Homo sapiens: one gene and its partners. The protein of the gene in region 7 purifies or fractionates together with the protein of the main gene of each other region. This does not show direct contact. Each region holds a gene or a part of one and is shown on either strand. Other genes may lie near its edges.

Region 1 (3,500 bases), on a different chromosome or scaffold from region 7:
CCGGGGGGTTCAGCCGCAGCTGGAGCCGGAGCGCCCCCTGAAGGCCAGGCACAGCGGGTGCCAGCTGAGCCCAGTCACCGAAGGTGGGGCAGGTGATGGTGAGTATGGGCGGCTGCACAGGTGGGGGCGTGGTGGCCAGGATGTCCCGGATCTGTATGGAGGAGGAGTGGTAAGGGACCACCTAGAGCCAGGCAACACCTAGCCCGGTGGGAAAACTGGGCGAGGACACCCTCATCCTTTCCCCCAGGGCCTGCTCCTCAGGGCCCTCCCGCCAAAACCCAACCCTCTCCAGCGCCACAAGGCTCTTTGATCTGGCCTCACCTCCTGTCTCTCCCTCCCCTTCAAATGCCTCCCTGCCCCAGGGCCTTTACACTCACCATTCTCTCCTCCCAGGGCACAGCTCCCTCCAAGGAGACTCTCCACGCCCCACCTGTCTACTGAACCTTTTCTCACCATTTTTAAGTGCCCCACTACAATGTGAAAGTGAGGTTTGCCATTTTGCCCATGTGTCCTACCCAGACTGCGGGCACCAGGAAGGACCCATTTGGCTCCATCCCTCATCAGGACTTTGGGACATCTGCTGACCTACAAACTCAGCTCACACCACACCCTTTCGCGGGCAATGGGACTGACCCCAGACAGCCAGGAGGCATGTGTCACCACTGCCATCCTACAGAGGATGGGGAGACCAGGCCATGGAAAACAGCAGGTCGCTGGTGCCACACAGCCTGATACACCCCAGTCAGGATTCAGAGCTGGGGAAGCAGGGGATGGCAAAGGGGTGGCTTACCTCTCTGTCCTTCAGGACCTGGAGGAAGTGGTGAGGCGAGAAGCCCCCTGTCTGTAGCAGCAGCTCCCCCGTCTCCTCCAGGCAGGGCCCAGCCAACACCAGTAGCTTGTGAGAGGCAGGGTCCAACAGAAGGTTCCGGAGCTGAGGGAGGGGGTGAACACTAAAGGACCCGTTCTGTGCAGTGACGTATCCAGCAGTCCTCTTTGGGGTAGCCTCGAGTCGATACATAACCACCCCTCTCCTGTCCTCACCCCACGACCAGCCCAGTGCTCAACTAGCTACGAAGGCAGTCTCCAGGTCTCCTGCTGGGCCCTGGAGCAACCCTAGCAAACTCCTATTCATCCTACAAAGCCCAGCTCTGATGTCCCTTCCTCCTGAAGGCACTACTTGCCCTTTCTGGGCTCTCTCTAGTCCACCTCTCCCTCCAGCCCAGCCCTGATGCCACAGGGCTGGGGGTGTCTGTGTCTCACTCTGTCTCTTAAAGACTGAGAGCCCCTCAAGGGAACAAAAGGGAAAAGTTGATCCAAGGAATCAACCTGTAAGAAGGTCTGTAGTGGGATGCCCCAGGGCTCTGTCTGGTTCATCTTCCGGATGTATAATTGGTAGAGTACAGATGGCCACAAGCTGGTTAATGTTAGTGAGTCGATTCAGACAACTCCTGGGGCCTAGCCGGAGGGAACCCACAGGAGGAAAACCTGTCTGCTCTGGCCTTCCCACCTCCAGACCCACGCTGTCCTGGGCCCTGAGCTGGGAGTGCTTACCCTCCCCTCCCTCCCAAAGTCCAGGCTTTTCTGCTCCCACCCCAGAGGAGGGAAGAAGCGGAGGCTGAAGCCACAGGGAAGGCTTCGTGGGCGAAGAAGTGTGGTGCCGGGTGTCTTGAGAGGATCTGGGGCAGCATGAAGACAAGGACACGAGACAGGAAGACAGAGAAGGCACGGGTCCCAGCAGCCCGCCCCCTCCAGGACGTCAGCCATTCCCTACCTCATCATACAGGGACTTGTCTGATGGGTTCAGGAGGACCAGGGTCTCCAGGTTGTCTCCACGGTGGTGCAGGCTCCGCTGGCCTGTGGGGGAATCAGGCCGTCCCGGAGTCAAATCCTGCCTCCCCGTGTGACCCTCAGGGAACATGAACCCCTCTGGGAACCCACCCAGGGATCATATGGAGATTAACAGGCGCACGGCAGAGCTGCAGGTCAGGACCAGGCAAGAAAGAGAAACTCAAACCACCCCAGCTGGCCTAAGAGAGGCAGTAACCAGAGGGCCCCATCGTGCGCAGGGCCTGGTTTGCAGCTGTCACCCCTGGGAGTGATGCCACCATTTTCTTCTTTTTTTTGTGAGACGGAGTCTCGCTCTGTCGCCCAGGCTGGAGGGCAGTGGTGCAATCTCTGCTCACTGCAAGCTCCGCTCCTCCTCCCGGGTTCACGCCATTCTCCTGCCTCAGCCTCCCGAGTAGCCAGGACTACAGGTGCCCGCCACCACACCCGGCTAAGTTTTTGTATTTTTAGTAGAGACAGGGTTTCACCGTGTAAGCCAGGATAGTCTCCATATCCTGACCTCGTGATCCGCCTGCCTCGGCCTCCCAAAGTGCTGGGATTACAGGCGTGAGCCACCGCGCCCGGCCTTTTTCTTTTCTTTTTTTTTGAGACGGAGTTTTGCTCTTGTTGCCCAGGCTGGCGTGCAACAGTGCAACCTGGGCTCACTGCAACCTCCGCCTCCTGGGTTCAAGCAATTCTCCTGCCTCAGCCTCCCGAGTAGCTGGGATTACAGGCACACGCCACCACGCCCCATTAATTTTTTCAATTTTTAGTAGAGACGGGGTTTTAACATGTGGGTCAGGCTGGTCTCAAACTCCTGACCTCAGGTGATCCGCCTGCCTCGGCCTCCCAAAGTGCTGGGATTACAGACTTGACCCACTGCACCCATCCGGCCACATTTATTTTTCAGACAGAGAGCCAGAGCTCGAGGAGGGCCAATGAGGGCGAACGTGGACGAGGGTACATCCGGAGCAAAGGTCCTGAGGCAGGACTCAGCTAGGGGTGGGGCAGCATAAGGGCCGGGGCTGAAGTAGGGCTGTTTCTGGGATCCTGACCCTGCTCTGTCCCCCAGGGCCCGTATGTGTTTTAAACATCAGTACTGTGAGAGGGGGGTGGCAAGGAGCCAGAGCCGGGGTGGGGGCCGGTGAGGGCCAACCCGGACCAGGGTACAGCACCAGCCAAGGCCCCTGAGGCAGGACTGAACTGTGAACAAGGCTGAGTCTTGAGAGGCAGAGACCCTCCAGTGTTGCCAGCCCTTATCACATTTAACTTTCTTTCCTTTCTTTCCTTCTTTTCCCTTTCTCTCTCTCTCGCCCTTATCACATTTAGCTTTCTCTTTCCTTTCTCTCTCTCTCTCCCTCCCTCTCCCCCTCCCTCCCTCCCTCCCTCTCTCTCTCTCTCTTTTTTGAGATGGAATCTCCCTCTATTGCCCAGGCTGAAGTGTAGTGGCACGATCTCAGCTCACTGCAACCTCTGCCTCCTGAGTTCAAGCAATTCTCCAACCTCAGTCTCCCAAGTAGCTGGGGTTATAGGCGCTTGCCACCACAACCAGCTAATTTTTGTATTTTTAGTAGAGATGGGGTGTCACCATACTGGTCAGGCTGGTCTCGAACTCCTGACCTCAGGTGATCCACCCACCTCAGCCTTCCAAAGTGCTGGGATTATAGGTGTGAGCC
Region 2 (4,250 bases), on a different chromosome or scaffold from region 7:
AGAGATGGGGTTTCACTGTGTTAGCCAGAATGGTCTCGATATCCTGACCTCATGATCCACCCACCTCAGCTTCCCAAAGCGCTGGGATTACAGGCATGAGCCACCGCGCCAGGCCTAATTTTTGTATTTTTTTGGTAGAGATGGGGTTTCACCATGTTGGCCAGGCTGGTCTTGAACTCATGACCTCAAGTGATCCGCTCGCCTCAGCCCCCCAAAGTGCTAGGATTACAGGTTTGAGCCATCAGGCCTGGCGTTGTTTGTTTGTTTGTTTGTTTGTTTGTTTTGGGAGATGGAGTCTCCGTCGCCCAGGATGGAGTGCAATGATGCCGTTTTGGCTCATTGCAGCCTCTACCTCGTGGGCTGAAATCATCCTCCCACCTCAGCCTCCCGAGTAGCTGGGACTACAGGTGCATGCCGCCATGCCCAGCTAATTTTTGTATTTTTTGTTGAGACGAGGTTTTCCTGTGTTGCCCAGGCTGGTCTCAAAATCCTGAGCTCATGTGATTTGACCACCTCAGCCTCTCAGAGTGCTGGAATTACAGATCTGAGCTACAGCACCCAGCTTGAATTATTTTAATTTTTGATGCTATTGTAAATAGTATTTTAAAATCTCAACTTCCAGTTGTTCATTGCTAATACTTGTAAACACAGTTGACTTTTATATGTTGAGTTTATATCTTGTTACCTTGCTAAATTCACTTTTTTTTTTTTTTTTTTTTTTTTTGAGACGGAGTCTCACTCTGTCGCCCAGGCCGGACTGCGGACTGCAGTGGCGCAATCTCGGCTCACTGCAAGCTCCGCTTCCCGGGTTCACGCCATTCTCCTGCCTCAGCCTCCCGAGTAGCTGGGACTACAGGCGCCCGCCACCGCGCCCGGCTAATTTTTTGTATTTTTAGTAGAGACGGGGTTTCACCTTGTTAGCCAGGATGGTCTCGATCTCCTGACCTCATGATCCACCCGCCTCGGCCTCCCAAAGTGCTGGGATTACAGGCGTGAGCCACCGCGCCCGGCCGCTAAATTCACTTTTTAGTTCAAGTAGATTTTTTTTACAGATTTCTTAGAATGTTCTTCATAAACAATCATTCTGTCTACAAATACATTGTTACTTCTTCCTTTTCAATCTGTAAACTTTTTATTTCTTTTTCTTGCATTTTTGTACTGGCTAACACCACTACTATAATGTTGAATGAAAGTGGTGGACGTCCTTGCCTTATTCCCAACTGGGAGAAAACATTTGGTGGGTCACCACTTAGTATGATGTTTCTTACAGTGATCTCCTAGGTGCCTTTTATCAAGATGAGGAATTTCTCTCTATTTCTAGATTACTAAGTGTTTCATTGTTTATTATTTCTTTTTTTTTTTTTTTTTTTTGAGACAGAGTTTTGCTCTTGTTGCCCAGGCTGGAGTGCAATGGCGAGATCTTGGCTCACCGCAACCTCTGCCTACCAGGTTCAAGCGATTCTCCTGCCTCTGCCTCCCGAATAGCTGGGATTACAGGCATGTGCCACCACACCCGGCTAATTTTGTTTTTTTAGTAGAGACTAAAACGTTGGCCAGGCTGGTCTCAAGCTCCCGACCTCAGGTGATCCACACGCCTCGACCTCCCAAAGTGCTGGGATTACAGGCCTGAGCCACCGTGCCCATCCTGTTATTACCATTAATGGATATTGGATTTTGTTAAATGCTTTTTCTGCATCTATTGAGATGTTCATAGTTTTTCCTTTTTATTCTGTTAATATGGCGAGTTACTTCTATTAATTTTCAAATATAAACAAATCTTGCATTCCTGGAGTGAACCCTACTTCATTATGATGTATTACCATTTTTATATGCTGTCGGATTCAGTTTTCTAAAATTTTGTTAAGAATATTTGCACCAGGTGTGGTGGCTAATGCCTGTAATCCCAGCACTTTGGGAAGCCAAGGCAGGCGGATCACTTAAGGCTGGAAGTTTGAGACCAGCCTGGCCAACATGGCAAAACCCTGTCTCTACTAAAATTACAAAAATTGGCCGGGCGCGGTGGCTCATGCCTGTAATCCCAGCACTTTGGGAGGCCGAGGTGGGTGAATCACAAGGTCAGAAGTTCGAGACCAGTGTGGCCAACATAGTGAAACCCCGTCTCTACTAAAAATACAAAAAATTAGCTGGATGTGGTGGTGTGCGCCTATAATCCCAGCTACTGGGGAGGCTGAGGCAGGAGAATCCCGTGAACCCAGGAAGTGAAGGTTTCAGTTAGCCAAGATCGTACCATCGCACTCCAGCCCAGGCGACAGTGCGAGACTCCATCTCAAAAAAAAAAAAAATACAAAAATTAGTCAGACATGGTGGCGGGCACCTATAATCCCAGCTACTCAGGAGGCTGAGGCAGAGAATTGCTTGAACCTGGGAGGCAGAGGTTGCAGTAAGCTGAGATCACACCACTGCACTCCAGCCTGGGCAACAGATTGAGACTCTGTCATAAATAAATAAACAAACAAACAAACAAAAATTAGCGGGCATGGTGGTGTGTGCCTGTAATCCCAGCTACTTGGGAGGCTGAGGTGGAAGAATCACTTGAATCCAGAAGGTGGAGGTTGCAGTGAGCTGAGATTGTGCCACTGCTCTCTAGCCTCAGTGACAGAGCAAGACTCCATCCGCCCCCGCCAAAAAAAGAATATTTGCATCTATGTTCATGAGGGATAGTATTCTGTAGCTGCTTTTCTTCTAACATCTTTGTCTGGTTTTGGTATCCCAATTAGATTTAATTAGCTCTCGTATTTCCTAAGTCATATTTCTAGAGTTAAATAGTTTTTGTTTTTCATAACATGATTTTTTCATTGGCTTGTCCTTATCAGACCAGAGCAGGGTATCAATCTTCCAAAATTCAGGCTGCTATGGTAGGGAGAAGCAGAGATCCTTTTGAATAGTAACAGTAATGTCAAGTGTTACATACTCCATACTCCTCTGCCAAAATATATCATGCATGAGCCTGTTTAGTCTTTATGATATTATAAAGTAGATAATAATCATCATTGAATAGAACAGGAAGCAGACCATGACAGGCTAAGCATCTTGCCCAGCCTACAAGATTGTGAATCTAATATAAGTGGCATACCAAAGATTAATACCAAGTCTCTAACTTCATCTTTCCGTGATGTTGTAATGACTAGTGTGGGCAGAGCCCATCTGACCTGTGACAGATAAGCTGACGTGAGTCTTGCATTTGAGGGTTCTGTAAAATCCTGAGGCATATGACTATTAAATGTGAAACCATCAAGTGTTTATTCTTCTATTTTATATGTGAAACTTGGGCATATACTTAATTATCCTATGCCACAGAAAGATTCCTATTGCGATTCACTTAAATGATCTTCTGTAGGGTAGCATTTAAGTCAATTAGAAAGATGAAAATTAAATGTCTTCAACGTATATACACACACGTTGTGTATGATTATAATTTTTTCTTTTTTTTTTTCTAGCAATGAAGCTTGGAGATACATGGGTGGCTTTGCAAAGAGTGTTTCCTTTTCTGATGTATTCTTTAAAGGATTCAAATGGGGATTTGCTGCATTTGTGGTAGCTGTAGGAGCTGAATATTACCTGGAGTCCCTGAATAAAGATAAGAAGCATCACTGAAGATAATACCTGGAAGCATCATAGTGGTTTCTTAACTCTCCAAAATAAGATTTCTTCTCTGTAGCCTACTTGTCTGGTTTATCCCTTACAGAATATTAGTAAGATTTAATCAATTAAAATATATATATATGCCAATCTGCTTTTGTCATTCTTAAAAAAAAAAAAGTGTCTCAAGCCATATCAGATTTGGTTTAGAATACATAGGGGGTTGGAGAACAGCAGTAGTGCGTTCTGCATATAGCAGGCAGGCATCATATATTTGGCTGAGCAAATGGGCATGTTCTAAGAAGTTTTTTTTTAATCTTTTTCTTTTTTTTTTTTTAACTAGTCCTGACCTAGCTGGCACTAACAAGTATTTAAATGGGAGTTGGCCTTGCTGTTTTTTTTTTGAGATGGAGTCTCGCTCTGTCACCCAGGCTGGAGTACAGTGGCGTGATCTCGGCTCACTGCAAGCTCTGCCTCCCGGGTTCACACCATTCTTCTGCCTCAGCCTCTCAAGTAGCTGGGACTACAGGCGCCCGCCACCATGCCCAGCTAATTTTGTTTTTGTATTTTCAGTAGAGACAGGGTTTCACCGTGTTAGTCAGGATGGTCTCGATCTCCTGACCTTGTGATCCACCCGCCTCAGCCTCCCA
Region 3 (4,101 bases), on a different chromosome or scaffold from region 7:
TAGATTAAAAAAATATAAACAGCCCTAGAGTACAGTACAAGAAAAAAAAAAAAAAAAAAGGCCAGGCGCGGTGGCTCACACCTTTAATCCCAGCACTTTGGGAGGTCGAGGCGGGCAGATCACGAGGTCAGGAGTTCAAGACCAGCATGACCAACATGGAGAAACCCCGTCTCTACTAAAAAATACAAAAATTAGCCAGGCGTGGTGGGGCACACCTGTCCCAGCTACTCAGGAGCCTGAGGCAGAAGAATCACTTGAACCTGGGAGGCAGAGGTTGCAGTGAGCGGAAAACATGCCATTGCACTCCAGCCTGGGCAACAGAGCGAGACTCTGTCTCAAAAGCAAACAAACAAACAACAAAAAAACAAAAACCTCTGTCAAAATGGGCAAAGAGTAAGAAGAAACAATTCACAAAAGGTGAAATATTAATGTCCAGTAAAGCATACAAAAATATGCTTGACCAGCCAGGTGTGGTGGCTCACGCCTGTAATCCCAGCACTTTAGGAGGCGGAGGCGGAGGCGGAGGAGGGTGGATCACAAGGTCAGGAGATCGAGACCATCCTGGCTAACACGATGAAACCTGGTCTCTACTAAAAATACAAAAAATTAGCCAGGTGTGGTGGCAGGCACCTGTAGTCCCAGGTACTTGGGAGGCTGAGGCAGGAGAATGACGTGAACCCAGGAGGCGGAGCTTGCAGTGAGCCGAGATTGCACCACTGCACCACAGACTGGGCAACAAAGCGAGACTCATCTCAAAAAAAAAAAAATGCTCGACCTCACCAGTTATCAGTAAAATATAAAATTGTTTCAGGCAGGGCGCGGTGGTTCAGGCCTGTAATCCCGGCACTTTGGGGGGCCAAAGCGGGCGGATCACGAGGTCAAGTGATCCAGGCCATCGTGGCCAACATGGTGAAACCCCATCTCTACTAAAAATACAAAAATTAGCTAGGCGTGGTGACACGCACCTGTAGTCCCAGCTACTCAGGAGGCTGAGGCAGGAGAATTGCTTGAACCCAGGAGGCAGAGGTTGCAGTGAGCCGAGATCGCGCCACTGCACTCCAGCCTGGAGACAGAGTGAGACTCTGTCTCAAAAAAAAAAAGTTTCATTCATTAGCTTGGCAAAAAAATTAACACCAATAATATTCAGCACTGACAAGGACTTGGGAAGTCACTTTGTAGTATTTTTCAGAGAAAGGGTACATACCCTTTCACCATATGATGCTACTTTTCGGATGGTATTCTGCAGAAATAACAGTACCTGTACAAAAGGATTTATGTATAAATATCTTTACTTAAAATTACCTTTGCTGTAACAATATTTCTAATGACAAATACCTGGAAACAACCTGAGTGCCATCAGCTGACAAATGACCTTATTGTCTGACTTGTAGCCATAAGCCTGTATTATTTTTATAACTGAAAAAAATTAAAGAGAAAAAACATGACAGAAATCAAACACTAACCTGAAGTCATCGTCTTCCTTTTTTTCTTGCTCTGCTCCCTCTTCCTTTCAGTTAGGCTCTCTTCTTTTTTCTCTCCATTTTGGGGCTTCTGATGTGTTTGTGATGCTCCACACACACCTGGGACAGACTTCTTGTTTCCAAAAAAGTCCAGTCCCTGAAGCACCTCCGAAGAATCAAAGTCATATTTCCTTTTTCCTATCTAAAACCCAAAAAATGTAAAATGAAACCTACTGACAGAATACCATTGCTTTCATTCAAGCAAGACTGTTCAATGACTCCTCATCTTTTCTACCCTTTCACCAAGTATCTGTCGAGCTAACAGGTGTCTGGACAAATGGAATCTGAAGAGACCTTCTCTGACCTCATAATAGTAACAAATTAATATTAGCAATGAACACATATATGCTTACTAAATGTCAAGCAGATTTCTAAGCATGTTTATACATATTAAATTGCTTCACATTTACAACTCTATAAGGTAAATAGCAGTATTACGAATGAGAAAACCAAGGCATTCGGAAATTAAGTAACTTGAGGTAGGTCTAAAAATGAGTAACTGGCAGACTTAGCATTTAGACCCAGATAATCTGGCTCCAGAGTTCATACTCACCAGTTAGAGAAAGAAGAAACACATGTCACACGCATATACACATCCAAACAACAAAGTAGACATTCAAGATTTTCCAGAATTGGGCCCCAATTGACCTCCCCCGATGTATCACTCACTACTTCTCTAGGTAAGAGCCCCCATTTCTTAATCGCTCTTCTCATTGGTTACTTAAGCCATGGGGTTGAAGCAATAAAAAGAATCACGCCCAGTACAACTATACGCATGCCAAGCCAAACTTGGGGAGACTATAGTAAGAGAATCTGTTTTCTCCATCTTTGGTTGTTTCTGTTTTCGAAATTCCTTTCCTCTAGGTTCGGAGAAAAAGTTCCTTTTGAAAGGAGGATTCCAACTTTGCTTTGAATAAGAGGGAGGAAAGAGGGTTTCCGTGCCAGGCCCAACTAGGTCTACAACAGGATAGTTAAAGAGCTTATTCAAAAGGCTTGAACCGAGCAGCCGTGCAGGCAAGCCGAACACAAAAGGAAGCAAAATACCCCAAGGGTGGCGAGAGCCAGGCCACGGGTGTCCAAGTGCGCCGGCCTCCCCCAGCAGCGGGTTCATTCCCGGGCTCCTGCTCCTTCTCAGTTACTCGGCCCTCGGTCCCTTGGGCACAGTACCTGGAATCGAGCTGCGTCTGCCGAGAAGCGTCTCGTGTCGAATTTGGCCCCCGCGCCGAGCCGGCGAAAGAGATCGTGGACGTCCATCTTTACCCAGAAAGCGCCACAGTTCTACGGCGCCTGCGCAGACTACTTCCCAGGCCCCGGGCAGCGTCGGAAGAGGGCGTGAGCATAATTGGCTCCTGTAGGCGGAGCCTGGCTGGGTGAGAAACGAGGCTATTTTATTATCGTGTACTCCGTCATTATTTATCTTTTTTTTTTTTTTTTGAAACAAGGTCTCTCTCTGTCGCCCAGGCTGGAGCGCAGTGGCGCAATCGCAGCCTCGAACTCCTGGGCTCAAGTGATCCTCCCATCTCGGTCTCCCAAACTGCTGGGACTACAGGCGTGTGTAAATTCTTTTAAAAAATATTTATCAGTATCCTCTTATGTTGGGCACTGTTCTAGACTTTGAGGGATACTATAGTAAACAACATCTTAAGATTCCTCTTCTTACGAAGCTTACATTTTAGTAGGGACAACAGATATTGTTAACAAATAAATAAGCAAAATCTCTGTAAAGTAATAAGTGCTATAAAACAAAAAGGTGTAATTGATAGAGAAAATGATGAGGGAGCTGACTTAGTGAAATTCACTCTGTTGAAGTGAAAACTTGAGCTAAGAGGAAGCAACCTGTCCAAGATCTGGGAACAGCATTCCAGATAGGGGAAACACGTGGCTGAAGGGAAAAAAATTGGAACCTTGAGGGAATAGAAAGAATGCCGGTGCGACTAGAGCCAAGTTGCAGTCTGATAGAGTAGTACAGATAAGGTTGGAGGGACAAACAGAAGCCAGATCTCACAGAATCTTGTAACAAGGTCATAGTAAGGAATTTGGACTTCCACCTTGGGAAACTATTTGAAAATTTTTATGGAGAGAAGAACATGATTTAGTTTATCACATTTAATTTTTTATATTTATTACATCTGTACGAAATTATTTACTGCTTATTGCCTCTCCCTCTTCTGGAATGTAAGTCCCTGAGCACAGGGATATACTTTGCTTCGTTATGTATCCCCAGTTTCTGTGCACTTTGGTGAATGAATGCGTGGATGTTTCATAAAGGATTACACTGGCTATTTGGAGAATGGACCATAGAAAAGCTAAGAGTGGAAACAGGTTAGTCAAAGTAGAATGATGATCATGGCTTGTCTAGGTTGGTATCTGTGCTGAGAGAGATAAATGGATTAGATCTGGCATGTATTTTGGAGGTAGAGCTAAACGTACCTGACGGATTTTATGCAGAGGTGAGAGAAAGGGAGGAATCAAAGATCACTCCTAGTTTTTTGGCTGAGTAGATGGCATGCCATTTACTGAGCTAAGAAAGCCTGAGAGAAGAAGGGCTTTCTGGTACAAGTGAGATACGGAGGATGGAATC
Region 4 (4,065 bases), on a different chromosome or scaffold from region 7:
GCTCACTGCAACCTCCGCCTCGCGGGTTCAAGCGATTCTCCTGCTTAAGCTTCCCGAGTAACTGGGACTACAGGCGCAAACCACCACGCCCGGCTACTTTTTTTGTATTTTTGGTAGAGACGAGATTTCACCAAGTTGGCCAGGTTGGTCCTGAATTCCTGACTTTATTTATTTATTTTCTGAGACGGAGTCTCGCTCTGCCGCCCAGGCTGGAGTGCAGTGGCGCGATCTCGGCTCACTGCAAGCTCCGCCTCCCAGGTTCACGCCAGTCTCCTGCCTCAGCATCCGGAGTAGCTGGGACTACAGGCGCCCGCCACCACGCCCGGCTAATTTTTTTTTGTGTGTGTGTGTATTTTTAGTAGAGACGGGGTTTTACCGTATTAGCCAGGATGGTCTCATCTCCTGACCTTGTGATCCGCCCGCCTCAGCCTCCCAAAGTGCTGCGATTACAGGCGTGAGCCACCGCACCTGGCCTAGAACTCCTGACTTTAAATGATCCATCCGTTTTGGCCTCCCAAACTGCTGGGATTACAGGCGTGGGCCACCGCGCCCAGTCAATCTCATTTAATCTTAATGCCAGGTACTGTTCTAACACTTTTCTATGTATAATTTATTTCACTTGCAGGTACTATTATTATTCCCATCTATAGGCCAGAAAGCTGAGGTACGAAGTTTAATTACCAGAGTTACTTATCTTCGTTAAAATCCAAGCAGTCTGGGCTACAAACAATTATACCTACTTTGCAGTCAAGGAACCAAGCTGAGATGTTGAGCTGAAAACCCAGGTCTCAGACTTCAAAGCTTTCTACACAAGAGTCGACGGTGGCAGTAAAAATTAATGGGGGCTTGATCTATCCCTCCCACCCCCAAGAAAAGTAAAAAGCAGGAGCTGGGACCAGAGAAAACCTCCACGGAGTCCTTATCCCCTAAATATAAGAGGCATTTAACGTTTAGCATTGCTGACCTGCAATCAGGCTTCAACTGTGAGTAGCCAGGCTCTAAAGCTTGATAACTGAATTCCAAAAAGCGCGCGAGCCTCCAGGCGAAACAGCTTCCCGCCTTCCAGCCGGTTGGAGCCGGCTCAGCAACAGCCTCTCCAAGCCAGGGTAGTGACGTCAGCCCAGGAATTGGGCCCGCCCCGGGATCTCGCTGCTTTCTGCACGCTCGGAATAACCAGAGTCGCGAAATTAGCCCCGCCCACTGCCCCGGAAGTTAATGCGGAAGCCACACACCTCCTCCTCGGCCGGCAGGGGCGCAGCCATTTTAATTCATATTTGAGTGGGCGGTGGCGATTGGTGTTGGCGGTCTGGCTCAGCTGGGCAGGGGGTAACTTTACTGATTTGGGGGTGGTTTTTAGTTTAATTTTTCTTTTCTAGCTTCCCATCGACGGTCAGTGCGCACGTTGTAATCAGCTGAGGCCATGTCAGGAGACGGAGCCACGGAGCAGGTGAGGAAGGAGAGTGGTGGGGCCTCGTGGCGACCTCTTCTCCACGTCTGTTCCTCCGACTGCTCCAGACATGTTCGGCTGAGGAAGGAATTGGGTCTAGTGAACCCGGGGGACAGGGTATATAGAAGAGTGGTGGGAATGGGGAGCAAGATCTAAGATTTAATTTTTTTTTTTTTACTTCTCTCTCTTAGGCATGAATACGAGTAAATACTTGATTTAGACAATAGCGGTAGGCTGCTTCGTCCTATTTAGATTCATGGGACTACTCCAGATGGGATGCTTTCCTTTGATATCGTTTTGGTATTAGAGTGGATAGGAATTATTTTAACGTGCACCCGACGTTTTAGAAAAACTTGACAGTGTTTCTTTTACCCCGCCAAATATACTGTACCCAGAAATAGGTTACTAGTTTGAGAAATATTTGAGACAAAGCTAATCTGGAGAATTAAGACTTAATGAGAGCGAGTGAAGAAAGAAGCAAGTTATGCTGAGGTTTTGGGAATTTTGTGGCTTTCTTTCGTTTTCTTTTCTTTTAGCCACATTTCGTTTTCATTTTTCCAGCTACATAAACATTGCAGGTATAAGTTGAAAATGAGAAGTCTGTTTTGGCCACTGTAAATAAAAGCATCTGTTTTAATAGTAAATATGAGTGACAACTAAATATTTTAAAATTCACACTTTTAGGTTAGATCAGTGTGATTTGTTTCTTTTGCTCTTTGTATTCAGAATTTTGTAGGATAGTATTTACCTTTTAGTGTGAAAGAGGAAGCTAAATAGTTATGAAAAATGCCATTAAATGTGTTTTTCGATCTAAGTCCTGGTGTGTTTAGATAAATACAGTTTCTAAAATGGAGGCTAGGTAGCCTGCAGTCTCAATTTCCTGAAATTTCCCATTGCCATAGCAACGACATGCACTTAGGTTTTCGTTTTTCAGGTTCCCTAGCTTATAACGTGGAAGATGTTATTGGAGGTTGGCAGAGATGAGGCAAAATAGGAGCGTTCTATTGCATAGTCTGTAAGACTGTAGATTTCATTATGTCGGCAGTTTGATTAAATTGTTTTGTGTTTGCCCGAGGACTGGTTTCAGTCCAGAAATCTTCGCACTATTTACATTTTACATAGTGTTAGCATGCCCAAGCATGCAAAGTCTTAAAATTACTGTATCAAAACTGTTTACCCCTTTTCTGATCTAGTATTTGTTATCTGAAAGTGAAGGACTAATGAACTGAGGTTTCATTGAAAGTTTTCGAAATTCATTGTTAATTCTTAGAATTTATCTAAAATTACAAAGACACGGAAATGTTACCATGACCTCTTGAATGTTTTAGAACTGTGGTGTTTCAGTGGGACAGATGGTGGTGAAAATTTATAGAAAAATAATTTCTCCCAAAGGTTTTATTGTGCAAAGTTTAGAACATAGAGAAAAGTTGAAAGAAAAGTGCAGTGAACACCTGTAGGACAACTCTTCGCCTGGAATCAACAGCTGAAAGCCTTGCCATATTTGCTTTATCTCCCCATGCTGATAGATTGAGAACAGAGTCTTTGTCACTCACACTAGAGTGCTGTGACGCCATCACAGCTCACCATAGCTTCGACCTCCCTGCGCTCTGTGATCCTGCCACCTCAGCCTCCTCCGTAGCTGGGAGTACAGGCGCGCGCCACCATGCCCAGCTAATTTTTTTTTTTTTTTTTTTTTTTTTTTTGAGATGGAGCCTTGCTCTGTCGCCCAGACTGGAGTGCAGTGGCGCGATTTCGCCTTACTGCAGCCTCCGCCTCCCGGTTCAAGCGATTCTCCTGCCTCAGCCACCCCAGTAGCTGGGATTACAGGCGCCCACCACCATGCCCCGCTAATTTTTGTATTTTAAGTAGAGACGGGGATTTTGCCACGTTGCCCAGGCTGGTCTCGAACTCCTGACCTCAAGTGATCCGCCTACCTCTGCCTTCCAAAGTGCTGGATTTACAGGCGTGAGCCACCGTACCTGGCCTAATTTTTGTATTTTTTTTGTAGAGACAGGAATTCACCATGTTGCCCAGCCTGGTCTGGAACTCCTGGGCTCAAGCGATTCACCCACCTCAGTGTCCCCAAGTGTTGGGATTACAGACAGGCACGAGCCACCACGCCTGGTCCACGCATGTTTATTTGAAAGTATTTTGACACATTGCAGCCCCAAGTATTTCAGCATTCTCTTATAAATAAGAGCAAAATGTTGTTACATAACCACCATACCATTTCCCCACCCAAGAAAATAGTATTTCTAAAATCTAGTTCTTTAAATTTCCCCATTTGTCCCAAGAATGTGATTTTTTTTTTAACCAGAATCAATCTAGATTTACATATTGAATCATTTACTTCTGTCTCTTAAGTAGTCTCACCATTCTTCTCCCCTGGGGCTGTTGTCTATTCGAAGTGTCAAGGACACTTAACACTGCTTTTCTGGGTGTATTTGTTTTTTGTTGTTTGTTTGCTTGCTTGCTTTTGGTTTGGGGGTTGATGATGTCATTTAACTTGTCCCTTCATCTGTATTTCCTGAAAACTTTACAGTTAGGTCTATACTCAGCCTTGATATTTGGGTTAAGTATTTTTGGATAGAATACTTAACATTATATCATTACATTAG
Region 5 (3,500 bases), on a different chromosome or scaffold from region 7:
TTATACTTAGGATCAGACTTAGTAAAATGGCTTCTAGTTATTACCTGTTGTGTTTTCCTAAATTCTTCTAAAATCTTTGCTGCCATTTCATAATCTTCTAATAAATGGTAAGCAATAGCATAACCAATCCATGATGCTCTCTGCGCAGGTCGAAGCTGAAGTAACTGATACCTCGTTTCCTTTAAAAGGAAAAAAATAAACACTTTTTCTTAGGCTTTTAGTAACAGCAAGTGCTCCTTTAAAAGATCTCCATATTAGGCCAGGCGCAGTGGCTCACGCCTGTAATCCCAGCACTTTGGGAGGCTAAGGCGGGTGGATCACGAGGTCAAGAGATCGAGACCATCCTGGCCAACATGGTGAAACCCCGTCTCTATCAAAAATACAAAAATTAACTGGGCATGGTGGTGCACGCCTGTGGTCCCAGCTACTCAGGAGGCTGAGGCGGGAGAATCACTTGAACCCGGGAGGCAGAGGTTGCAGCCTGGCAACAGAGCAAGACGCCGTCTCAAAAAAAAAAAAAAAAAACACACATTAATTTATCCCACAACCCCAAGCATTTTACAACACAATGATGGGAACAATAATAGAAAATACTTCAAACATCCATATTGTGTAGCTTTATGGAGGCAAAGAAATATTTGTTAAGAACATAATGAAGCCTCCAAGCTAATCTTAGAATTTTTTTAAAACTTAAGACCAGATTTAAGTTTTTAAAACTTAAGACCAAACTTAAGACCCTTCTTTATTTCTTGATCTGCTCAGTCCCAGAAAAGAGGCAGGATGGAAAGAACAGCACAAAGGAAAAATATTCAAAAATGTTTTTAAAAATTAAGTGTCCAACTACAGAGTTAACATACATAAAGAGGAAAGAATATGAAAGAGGAACTAAATAGATCTAACACTAATTTAAGGGTTAAAATCGAAGCTACAAAAATATATTAGAGTCAGTGGAGGTAGAAAGAAGAAACAAAACATTTGTTTTTGCCAGGTGCAGCAGCTCATGCCCGTAATCCTAGCACTTTGGGAGAATAAGGTGGGGTGGACTGCCTGAGCTCAGGAGTTCAAGACCAGCCTGAGCAACATGGTGAAACCTCATCTCTATTAGAATATAAAAAATGAGCTGGGCATGGTGGCACATGTCTGTAGCCCCAGCTACTCAGGAGGCTGAGGCATGAGAACTGCTTGAACCCAGGAGGTGGAAGCTGCAGTGAGCCAAGATCATGCCACTGCACTCCAGCCTGGGCAACAGAGTGAGACTCTAATGTCTCCAAGAAAAAAAAAATTTTTTTTTTGTTTTGCTTTCCAGAAAAATGTGGGAAGTAAATGTTAGAGTTACATGTCAATACTAGACAAAGGCATTGTTTATTTGAGGAGTACTGATTTTCTTTTTTTTTTTTTTTTTTTTTTTTTTGAGACAGAGTTTCGCTCTGTTACCCAGGCCGGAGTGCAGTGGCGTGATCTTGGCTCACTGCAAGCTCCACCTCCCGGGTTCAGGCCATTCTCCTGCCTCAGCCTCCTGAGTAGCTAGACTACAGGCACCTGCCACCACGCCTAGCTAATTTTTTGTATTTTTAGTAGAGATGGGGTTTCACTGTGTTAGGCAGGATGGTCTCGATCTCCTGACCTCATGATTCACCCACCTGGGCCTCCCAAAGTGCTGGGACTACAGGCGTGAGCCACCGCACCTGGCCTGATGTTAATTTTTATCAAATTAAGTCAACCCTACACAGTAGGCCAAATCTGCCTCACCATAAAATAATTTATTTTTAAAGATCTGATTATTCCAATCATAAACATAACCACTGTGGTAGGAGGAAAAAAAAATTCAATTAAATTATTTTCAAAATGAAATAAAAAATTTATGTATCTGAAAGTACTCAAAGTTGTACATATTTTCCCCTTAGAATTAAAAAAAAAAGTCTCTATTTTACTTACCCTGTAACCCTCAAGATCTCGCATTTGAATCTGTAGTAAGGAAAGGTCCCTTAAGATTTGAAGATTGTCTTTATCCCATTTTAGTGCATTTCTGTAACACTTAATGGCTTCATCATACTTCTTGTCTGACCTCTGAAGAAGGCCATAAACGTGCCAACCTAAAGAATTTAGTTAAGGGTACAACCTACAAGTCAAAAATTACTATTCCAAACGACCTCCCAAAAAACTTGGAGAACCACAGCCATTTATAAAACTACAAGCTTAAAAAGAAGGGGAAGGGGAGGGGGAGATTGATTTCAAAGATATAAAGCAGTTTAATACAGTGGAAAAGAGCACAGCTTTTGCAGCCAGAGAAAATTAGGTCTTGCCTACCTTATCAGCTCTGTAACCTTGGACAAATCAGTCTCATTAAGTTTCCTCATTACTAAAATGTAAACAAATAGTCTATGCAGCAAATCATACTACTGACAACTAAATGGGATAACATATATAAAGTGCTCACTGGCTGGCACAAAGTCAATATATATATATGTAAACAGTTACTATATTATTAATAGTAAAAGGAAAAAGAAGGAATGGGTCTTCATGGAATCCAGTTATGTAAAGTCATGAAGATTTTATTTTCTTGAACTAACAAGATTCTTAGGACAACCCTTAGTGTAATACAAAGTTTCTAAAACTCAGCCACATATAAAATAAAAACATTCATTCATTTAACCGTAATTATTAAAACTTCTTTCCCTTTTTTTGAGACAGGTATTGCTCTGTCACCCAGTCTGGAGTGTCGTGGTGTGGTCTTTGCTCACTGCAACCTCCACTCCCTGCACTCAAGTGATACTCCCACCTCAGCCTCCTGAGTAGCTGCGACTACAGGCACACACCAGCATGCCAGCTATTTTTTTCTATTTTTGGTAGAGATGGGATCTCGCCATGTTGCCCAAGATGGTCTCAAACTCCTGAGCCCAAGCAATACACCTGCCTTGGCCTCCCAAAGTGCGGGGATTACAGGCATAAGCTCCCAAACCCAGCCTAAAACTTCTTAATAACTAAGACGTAGGTCATCAAAATAGCCTCCTATATTAAAAGATCTTAAAGTCTAGTAAAGGACAGATAAATAAGCAAAATTAAAGTAGGTTGTAAAAACTGCTATCAAGGAGGAGAATATTCCACTTCCCAAATACAGCCCTTTTTCACTTTAGATCTTGATTACTGTACCAGCTACCCAACCCACCTATCTTCAGTCTGTCTTCTTTTATTCTCCTACCAAAGTAATTGGGTTTTGTTGTTTTTTGTTGTTGTTGTTGTTGTTTGTTTGTTTTTGAGATGGAGTCTCGCTCTGTCACCAGGCTAGAGTGCAGTGGCATGATCTCAGCTCACTGCAACCTCTGCCTCCCAGGTTCAAGCAACTCTCCTGCCTCAGCCTCCCAAGTAGCTGGGATTACAAGCGTCTGCCACCACGCCCAGCTATAATTTTTGTATTTTTAGTAGAGACAGGGTTTCACCATGTTGGCCAGGATGGTCTTGATCTCCTGATCTCGTGATCCGCCCGCCTCCTAATTATTGCG
Region 6 (3,500 bases), on a different chromosome or scaffold from region 7:
GATGGGTCTTGTTTTATCATCCAGGCTGAAGAGCAGTGGTATGATCATAGCTCACTGCATCCTTGAACTCCTGGGCTCAAGCCATCCTCCTGCATGCCACTTCACCTGGCTTATTTTTCAAAAATTTTTTGTAGAGATGGGGTCTCACTATGTTGACCAGGCTGGTCTTGAATTCCTGGCCTCAAGTGATCCTCCTGCCTGGGCCTCCTAAAGTGCTGGGATTATAGGTATGAGCCACTGTACCTCATGAGACTTTCTAAATAATGTGTATTTCTACAAGTTATTTTTAACCTACCATCAGATGTATGTGTGTATATATATGATATTTACATAAAACATGTATGCGTAGTATATGTATACATTAAAAAAATTATGGCTGGATGCAGTGGCTCACACTTGTAATCCCAGCACTTTGGGAGGCCGAGGTGGGCGGATCACTTGAAGCCAGAGTTCGAGACCAGCCTGGCCAAAATGGTGAAACCCGGTCTCTACTAAAAATACAAAAACTAGCTAGGCAGTGTGGCATGCACCTGTAATGCCAGTTATTTGGGGGGCTGAGGCAGGAGAATTGCTTAAATCTGGGAGGGAGAGGTTGCAGTGAGTCGGGATCAGACCACTGCACTACTCCAGCTTGGGCAATAGAGCCAGACTTCGTCTCAAAAAAAAAAAAAAAAAATTTATGCTGTCATAAAAAACTAGGCCTTTCATTTCCCAACTCTGAGTAATGCCTGGCTCAGGGATAGTGGTCATGGGGCGGGTACCTACACTTTGCTTTTCCAAGCTAAGTCAAGAGCATTAAGGACAAAAGTTAATACAAAGAAAATATGAATTCAGGCAGGGGTCCAGTGAAAATGAAGCCTGGCAGCTTCCTCTGTGCAAGGCAACAAGAACAGAAACTATGGAGAAACTGTCCAGTGGAGGCACAAGAATATGAAGACATCAGCTCCATCCTGGCAGGGAATTTTTGCCTGTTTTTGTAGTATCTTCAATAAGTATTTGTGGTTTGAATGACTGGAATGAGAACAACAGGAGATCAAGATTCAGTTATTGATCATCTTAGTGTGAAAGGGTTGATGAGGAAGAAGGAACAATGAGTACTTTCTTTATACTGTTCTGTGTATTTAACCCATATAACCCATGGGTATATATTACTTTTTAATTTAAAAAGACTAATTTTTTTTTTTTTTTTTTTGAGACACAGTTTCACTCTGTTACCCAGGCTGGAGTGCAGTGGCACAATCTCGGCTCACCACAACCTCCACGCCCTGGGTTCAAGCAATTCTCAATTCTCGTGCCTCAGCCTCCCAAGTAGCTGGGTCTATAGGCATGTGCCACCATGCCTGGCTTATTTTTGTATTATTAGTAGAGATGGGGTTTTGCCATGCTGGTCTCAAACTCCTGACCTCAAGTGATTTACCGGCCTTGGCCTCCCAAAGTGCTGGGACTACAGGCATGAGCCACTGCACCTGGCCTAAAAAAGACTAATTTAGATGTCAATGTAGATTTTTCTGGTGGGAAAAAAATGAAGGGAACATATGTACTTTCTGTCTTTAACCTTCTCTGTGGATTCAAGTTTGGCAAGATGATGCAAAGATGAAAACTGATGGAAAGCAGATGATAATATTTAGGGCTAACTTATTTCTTAGGAGATCTGATAATCTACAGACATTTACATTCATGTAGGAAACTCACAGGAAGGAAGTGAATATGGCTAATGTCACGATGTGAAAACCGGACCAGAACTCTGAAACTTCCTGTAGCCTCTTCTTTTAGAAACTAAAGATCTTATGCTCAGGGCTTTCAGAATCATGGCTGCTGGTTCTACCCACTTAATAATGAGAGCAGGGCAAAAGTTAGCTGTAAGGGCATAACATGCCTTAAGATGACATCTACAGACTTGCCTCTTTTTAGGATAGGCTACCTACCAGCTCTGCTTAGACTCCTAAATGTAATCAGATTTCATAGCAAACCATTATCTAGGCTGGACGTGGTGGCTCACACCTGTAATCCTAGCACTTTGGGAGGCCGAGACAGGCGGATCACTTGTGGTCAGGAGTTCAAGACCATCCTGGCCAATATGATGAAACCCTGTCTCTACAAAAAAATACAAAAATTAGCCGGGCGTGGTGGCAAGTGCCTGTAATCCCAGCTACTTGGGAGGCTGAGGCAGGAGAATCGCTTGAAACCAGGAGGTGGAGGCTGTAGTGAGCCAAGATTGCACCACTGCACTCCAGCCTGGGCGACAGGGCAAGACTCCCTCTCAAAACAAACAAACAAAAAAACACATTATCCAGTCAAAACATCATTCCTAAAGAAGACCCAGGGTCTATATCTGGTATTGGGTCTACTACACAGACACTAGATCTAAAGATCAACCACTGAGATGGAGATTTCCACAAGGCAGGAATTTCACTCTACAGCAAACACCACATCGAGATGGTATTAATTATTTATATTCTAGGCATTAAGTTGGTTTTCATGAGGGCAGGCCTAGATACAGACTAAGTAATACTGCCGGAGCTTCCCCAAGGCCAAGAAATCAGGTTACATATTGCTCTTCAAAGTATGCCGCTCTTGATATCTACAGTACTCCAACTTTATCTTGTTGAACTTTTGCCAGTAGAAATGACAAAATCAGGAAAAAAAAGTAAAGGTTAAGGAGAAGGCAGCAAAGGTAAGCACTGAGTTACCTGCACTGGCTCCAGATACTGCTTTGGAAATGGCACTGCTGGAAATTGCTCTGTTTCGCTTCATGATATCTTCAAATTCGGCTTCACTCACTGTAGAGGGTGGAGGGCCCGAATCTCGGCTGTACAGAGAAAATACCATCCTTGATTGCTCACATCCCTTATTATTTTTACTGTACTCTACAACACTTTGGTAATTTTGGCATAACACAGAACAATGCTAGACATCTGTAGCATTCATAACACCTGCTCCCGCATTTAATTAAGCACCTTAAAAAGGGGTATAAAGGACATGGTACTACTTCCCAGGAGTCAATGCTATGATAACAGAATGTCTATAAGGGAAAGAACAAGGATTCAGTGCTCACTTTCTCAGGGAGAATAAAATGCTTAATACACTTATTTACCCTGGCTCAAATCTGAAAGGAACAATAGTCCTTACCTGCCATGGTGGTTATAGGGGGCAGAGGCCTTCATGTAAGTATCTGGTGGAGGCCCCACTGTAGCGTTTGGTGGGGGGAAGAAGGCTGGATTGAGGTGAAGGGCAGGTGGGATGGCCCCAGGGGGAGGTACAGCAAGATGAGGAGGTAATCGAGGAGGTGGGGGCATGAGATGCTGGTAGTGGATACCAGGAGGAGGAGGAGGGACCCCAAAGCTTGAGGAGAGAGGTGGTGGGGGTGGAATTGGTGGTGGGGGCAGACCCATCAGGGGAAGGGCCGAAGGAGGACGATTGAAGTAGGGCAGCACACTGGGGGGCTTATCCACACGAGCAGATGAGGGTACAAGGTTCTCAGAGGGTGTGGCCCGTCCATC
Region 7 (3,500 bases):
AGATTATAGGTATGAGTCACCACACCTGGCCTGACTTTTCACTATTTAAGCCACTAAAGTAGTTAATGTGATTAATAACCTATGTTGATGGGATTACAGTAAGCCAAGCATTCTCCCTATTGCTTAACCAGGGTAAAAATGGGTATGATAACCTTTACAGAAAGTAATTTGGCATTTTGGCAATTTGTTTTAAGAGTCTTTAAGAAGCTCATAGTTCCTATCATTTGACACAATAATTCAACTTTTAGGAATCGATTTTAACAAAATAATGAGATAAGCACCAAGATTTTGGTACGCACATTAATCCAACAATTACTTTCTGAATACCTGTTCTGTGCTGGGCCCTGGGGTGGAGCCACAGTGAACAAAAAAATAGGGCTCCTATGTGCATGGAAGTTACCATCCATTAGTTTAAAAAAATATTGTGATATTGCTATAGTCAAACTCTAAAAACAACATAATTAACAAATAAGGGAATGTGTATACAAATTATGGTATATCCATAAAATAGAATATTGTAAGAGCATTAAAAACAACTTTTGAAAAAATCCATAATGACATAGGAAATGGTTATGTTAAAAGGTTAAAAGCAAAAAAAAAAAATCATGACGCAAAACCAAATATATATTATCACAAATATGTAAAAATTCAGAGAAAAAAGATGAGAAGGAAATACATTAGGATGATAACACAAGTGATCTCTGTATATTTCTAAAAGTCAGAAATCCCGGGCTCTAGTCTCAACTCTACTGCTTATTACTATCCTAATATTTGACTTTGGGCAAGTCAGTCAAATCTCCTAAGTCTTAATTTTTTAATTTAGAAAATGAGCTGCAATTCTGGATTTGACTCGCTACTAGTATTCAAATTAGATAACGCAAGAGTGAGTCTGTTGTAAGCTGAAAAGCTTTAAACAAATATCACATACTATTATTTTCTTAGCAAAGAAGGATGATTAGACTAGAAACGTTGAACCCCTTTCTCCCACTTTTCCATGTCTCTTCTCTCCTTCAAATTCTAATTTAATACAATGCTAACTTTTGGGGAATTTTCTTGACTTATCCCATTTGCCCCCAATCACTTACTTTGTATCTTTGCCACATTTTTGTGTATCTCATTAATCCATACATTGGCCAAATATATCTCACCAGATGTGTTTCTTTCTCCTTTTTTTTCTTTAAAAAAGTCTGGAATCATTTATGAACTTAGTGTGGGCTGGGCTGGGGCTATTCTGAATCTTTAGAAAATTATATAACCATCATTTCTTCACTCCCATCTTAATCCTTTGCCCAAAGAATAACAGTCAAACTGTCCTAAAATCAACAGATGTCTTCAGGAAAACATTTCATAACCTCTCTGATGTAGGACATTTGCATCTTAAATATTCTTATCATCATTACATTTTAAGTGTAAACCTTTCTTCAGGCAAAGACCACCCACCTGATGCCTTGTGAGGCACTGTTCCCAGCAGAGGGACATTGACGGTTGGATCTGCCATGATGCCTTTATCCAGGGAGCGCAAGGACAGGAATTCATAGAAGTATTCTGCCTACAACCAAAGGCACTGACAGTTAGTAACATGGAAACCAGAGAGGGAGAAGGCACCACAGAATTCATCGTCCATCTGATGGGGCAGAGATAATTTTCATTACAGGAACTCTGGAGCACACAGCATCCAAGATACTGGGTAGGCACAACTCACCCTTCTGTGTTAGACTCTGGAGAGAAGTGATCCCTAAAAACATTAAAAACAGCCACAATAGTTAATCTGTTTTTGTTTGTTTGTTTTTTGAGACAGAGTCTTGCTCTGTTGCCCAGGCTGGAGTGCAGTGGCGCAATCTCAGCTCACTGCAACCTCTGCCTCCCAGGTTCAAGCAATTCTCCTGCCTCAGCCTCCTGAGTAGCTGGGATTACAGGCATGTACCACCACGCCCTGCTAATTTTTGTATTTTTAGTAGAGACAGGGTTTCACCATGTTGCCGGGGTCTGTCTCGAACTTCTGACCTCAAGTCATCTGCCTGCCTTGGCCTCCCAAAGTGCTGGGATTACAGGCTTTAGCTACTATGCCTGCCCAGTAATTTTTTAACTTAAATGATATTAATTGCTGTCTTTTTAAAAGATTGAGAAAAAAAATTCTCTTAGGGAAATAGGTGATGTCAAACCAGTCATTGACTAGAATCCATCTCAGCTATTTTAATCATTCTTTAATACTCCTAATTCTAAATTCTGAAGTGAGTCTTTTGATCAGAATTTGGAGAGTTGTAATGAAGTCCCAAATTCCATGATCTTGCTGTTAACATTTATTTTTTACTCTCATTCCCTTTGAAAGGTTTATATTTAATGTCTCGATTTAATTGTGGAGAGAAAAGCCAAAAGATGCAAAAACCACCATCACAATAAGACAACAAGCCATAAACCTTTACATTGTGAACACTTTCATTTACCCACTAAGTCTAGTTGAGAAAATGATTCCTGCTACTCAAATGGCCATGAATACTGAAAGTAATGATGCATAATCTCACTATAGAGCTTTAATGCTTAATGGATTCCCACTGGATTATTAAAAGGGTTTGTGAAGGCCAGGCACGGTGGCTCACACCTGTAATCCCAGCACTTTGGGAGGCTGAGGTGGGCGGATCACTTGAGGTTAGGAGTTCGAGACCAGTCTGGCCAACATGGCGAAACCCCGTCTCTACTAAAAATACAAAACTTAGCTGGGCATGGTCGTGGGTGCTTGTAGTCCCAGCTACTTGGGAGGCTGAGGCAGGAGAATTGCTTGAACCCAGGAGGTGGAGGCTGCAGTGAGCCAAGATAGCACCATTGCACTCCAGCCTGGGCAACAGAGCAAGACTCCATCTCAAAAAAAAAAAAAAAAAAAAGTGAAAGAGAGGCATTACTAGAGATGCTATAGACATTTAAGCAAGAAAAGGGATCAATGTTACACCAATAAATTCAATGACTTTGATAAAATGAACTCCTTGAGAAACACAAATGAACAAATCTGACAAGAAATAGAAAGTTTGAATAGCCTTATGTCTGTTAAGGAAATTATATTCAAAATTGTAAAACCCTCCCACAAAAAAAATTCCAGGGTCAAATGGCTTCCCTGGTGAATTCTCACAAACATTAAGGAAGAAATAATGCCAACATTACAGAAATTTATAAGCATTGGAGATTGTTATTATTATCATCAATATTGTTTTCATAAGTCTCCTCCCTCAGTTATCAGCTTCCAGCTTGAACCTGGGAGGCAGAGGTTGTCATGAGCTGAGAACATGCCACTGCACTCCAGACTGGGTGACAGAGTGAGACTCTGTCTCAAAAAAAAAAAAAAAAAGCGGAAGGAGAGTTGTGATGGTAACAATATGTTCTTGCTTAGAAATAAAGAACAATCAATAAATAGCACCAATGCTAACATGAGAGTTAGGCAAGTTGAGTGGTTCTGCAGTTACCTGTAGAGACATCCAGAATTACATTAATTTAATGTAATGAATTAAATT

Evidence for each region.
Region 1: the proteins of WIF1 (region 7) and MAP1S purify together in Homo sapiens (affinity purification with mass spectrometry; one large-scale study listed by BioGRID and IntAct). This does not show direct contact.
Region 2: the proteins of WIF1 (region 7) and NDUFB3 purify together in Homo sapiens (affinity purification with mass spectrometry; one large-scale study listed by BioGRID and IntAct). This does not show direct contact.
Region 3: the proteins of WIF1 (region 7) and DDX52 purify together in Homo sapiens (affinity purification with mass spectrometry; one large-scale study listed by BioGRID and IntAct). This does not show direct contact.
Region 4: the proteins of WIF1 (region 7) and CSTF3 purify together in Homo sapiens (affinity purification with mass spectrometry; one large-scale study listed by BioGRID and IntAct). This does not show direct contact.
Region 5: the proteins of WIF1 (region 7) and NAA15 purify together in Homo sapiens (affinity purification with mass spectrometry; one large-scale study listed by BioGRID and IntAct). This does not show direct contact.
Region 6: the proteins of WIF1 (region 7) and CPSF7 purify together in Homo sapiens (affinity purification with mass spectrometry; one large-scale study listed by BioGRID and IntAct). This does not show direct contact.

Annotation. Positions count from the first base shown.
Region 1 is NC_000019.10:17,722,480-17,725,979, reverse strand, and holds part of MAP1S (microtubule-associated protein 1S), read right to left. Parts: intron 1,855-3,500; coding exon 1,772-1,854; intron 932-1,771; coding exon 791-931; intron 152-790; coding exon 1-151. UniProt on the Homo sapiens protein: Microtubule-associated protein that mediates aggregation of mitochondria resulting in cell death and genomic destruction (MAGD). Plays a role in anchoring the microtubule organizing center to the centrosomes. Binds to DNA. Plays a role in apoptosis.
Region 2 is NC_000002.12:201,082,001-201,086,250, forward strand, and holds the end of NDUFB3 (NADH dehydrogenase [ubiquinone] 1 beta subcomplex subunit 3), read left to right. Parts: intron 1-3,458; coding exon 3,459-3,615; 3' UTR 3,616-3,750; downstream 3,751-4,250. UniProt on the Homo sapiens protein: Accessory subunit of the mitochondrial membrane respiratory chain NADH dehydrogenase (Complex I), that is believed not to be involved in catalysis. Complex I functions in the transfer of electrons from NADH to the respiratory chain.
Region 3 is NC_000017.11:37,640,647-37,644,747, forward strand, and holds the start of DDX52 (probable ATP-dependent RNA helicase DDX52), read right to left. Parts: upstream 2,801-4,101; 5' UTR 2,775-2,800; coding exon 2,688-2,774; exon of another isoform or gene 2,292-2,687; intron 1,663-2,291; coding exon 1,464-1,662; intron 1-1,463.
Region 4 is NC_000011.10:33,158,681-33,162,745, reverse strand, and holds the start of CSTF3 (cleavage stimulation factor subunit 3), read left to right. Parts: upstream 1-1,265; 5' UTR 1,266-1,420; coding exon 1,421-1,447; intron 1,448-4,065. UniProt on the Homo sapiens protein: One of the multiple factors required for polyadenylation and 3'-end cleavage of mammalian pre-mRNAs.
Region 5 is NC_000004.12:139,339,505-139,343,004, reverse strand, and holds part of NAA15 (N-alpha-acetyltransferase 15, NatA auxiliary subunit), read right to left. Parts: intron 2,094-3,500; coding exon 1,936-2,093; intron 180-1,935; coding exon 45-179; intron 1-44. UniProt on the Homo sapiens protein: Auxillary subunit of N-terminal acetyltransferase complexes which display alpha (N-terminal) acetyltransferase (NAT) activity. The NAT activity may be important for vascular, hematopoietic and neuronal growth and development.
Region 6 is NC_000011.10:61,412,976-61,416,475, forward strand, and holds part of CPSF7 (cleavage and polyadenylation specificity factor subunit 7), read right to left. Parts: coding exon 3,130-3,500; intron 2,810-3,129; coding exon 2,691-2,809; intron 1-2,690.
Region 7 is NC_000012.12:65,076,306-65,079,805, forward strand, and holds part of WIF1 (wnt inhibitory factor 1 precursor), read right to left. Parts: intron 1,550-3,500; coding exon 1,441-1,549; intron 1-1,440. UniProt on the Homo sapiens protein: Binds to WNT proteins and inhibits their activities. May be involved in mesoderm segmentation.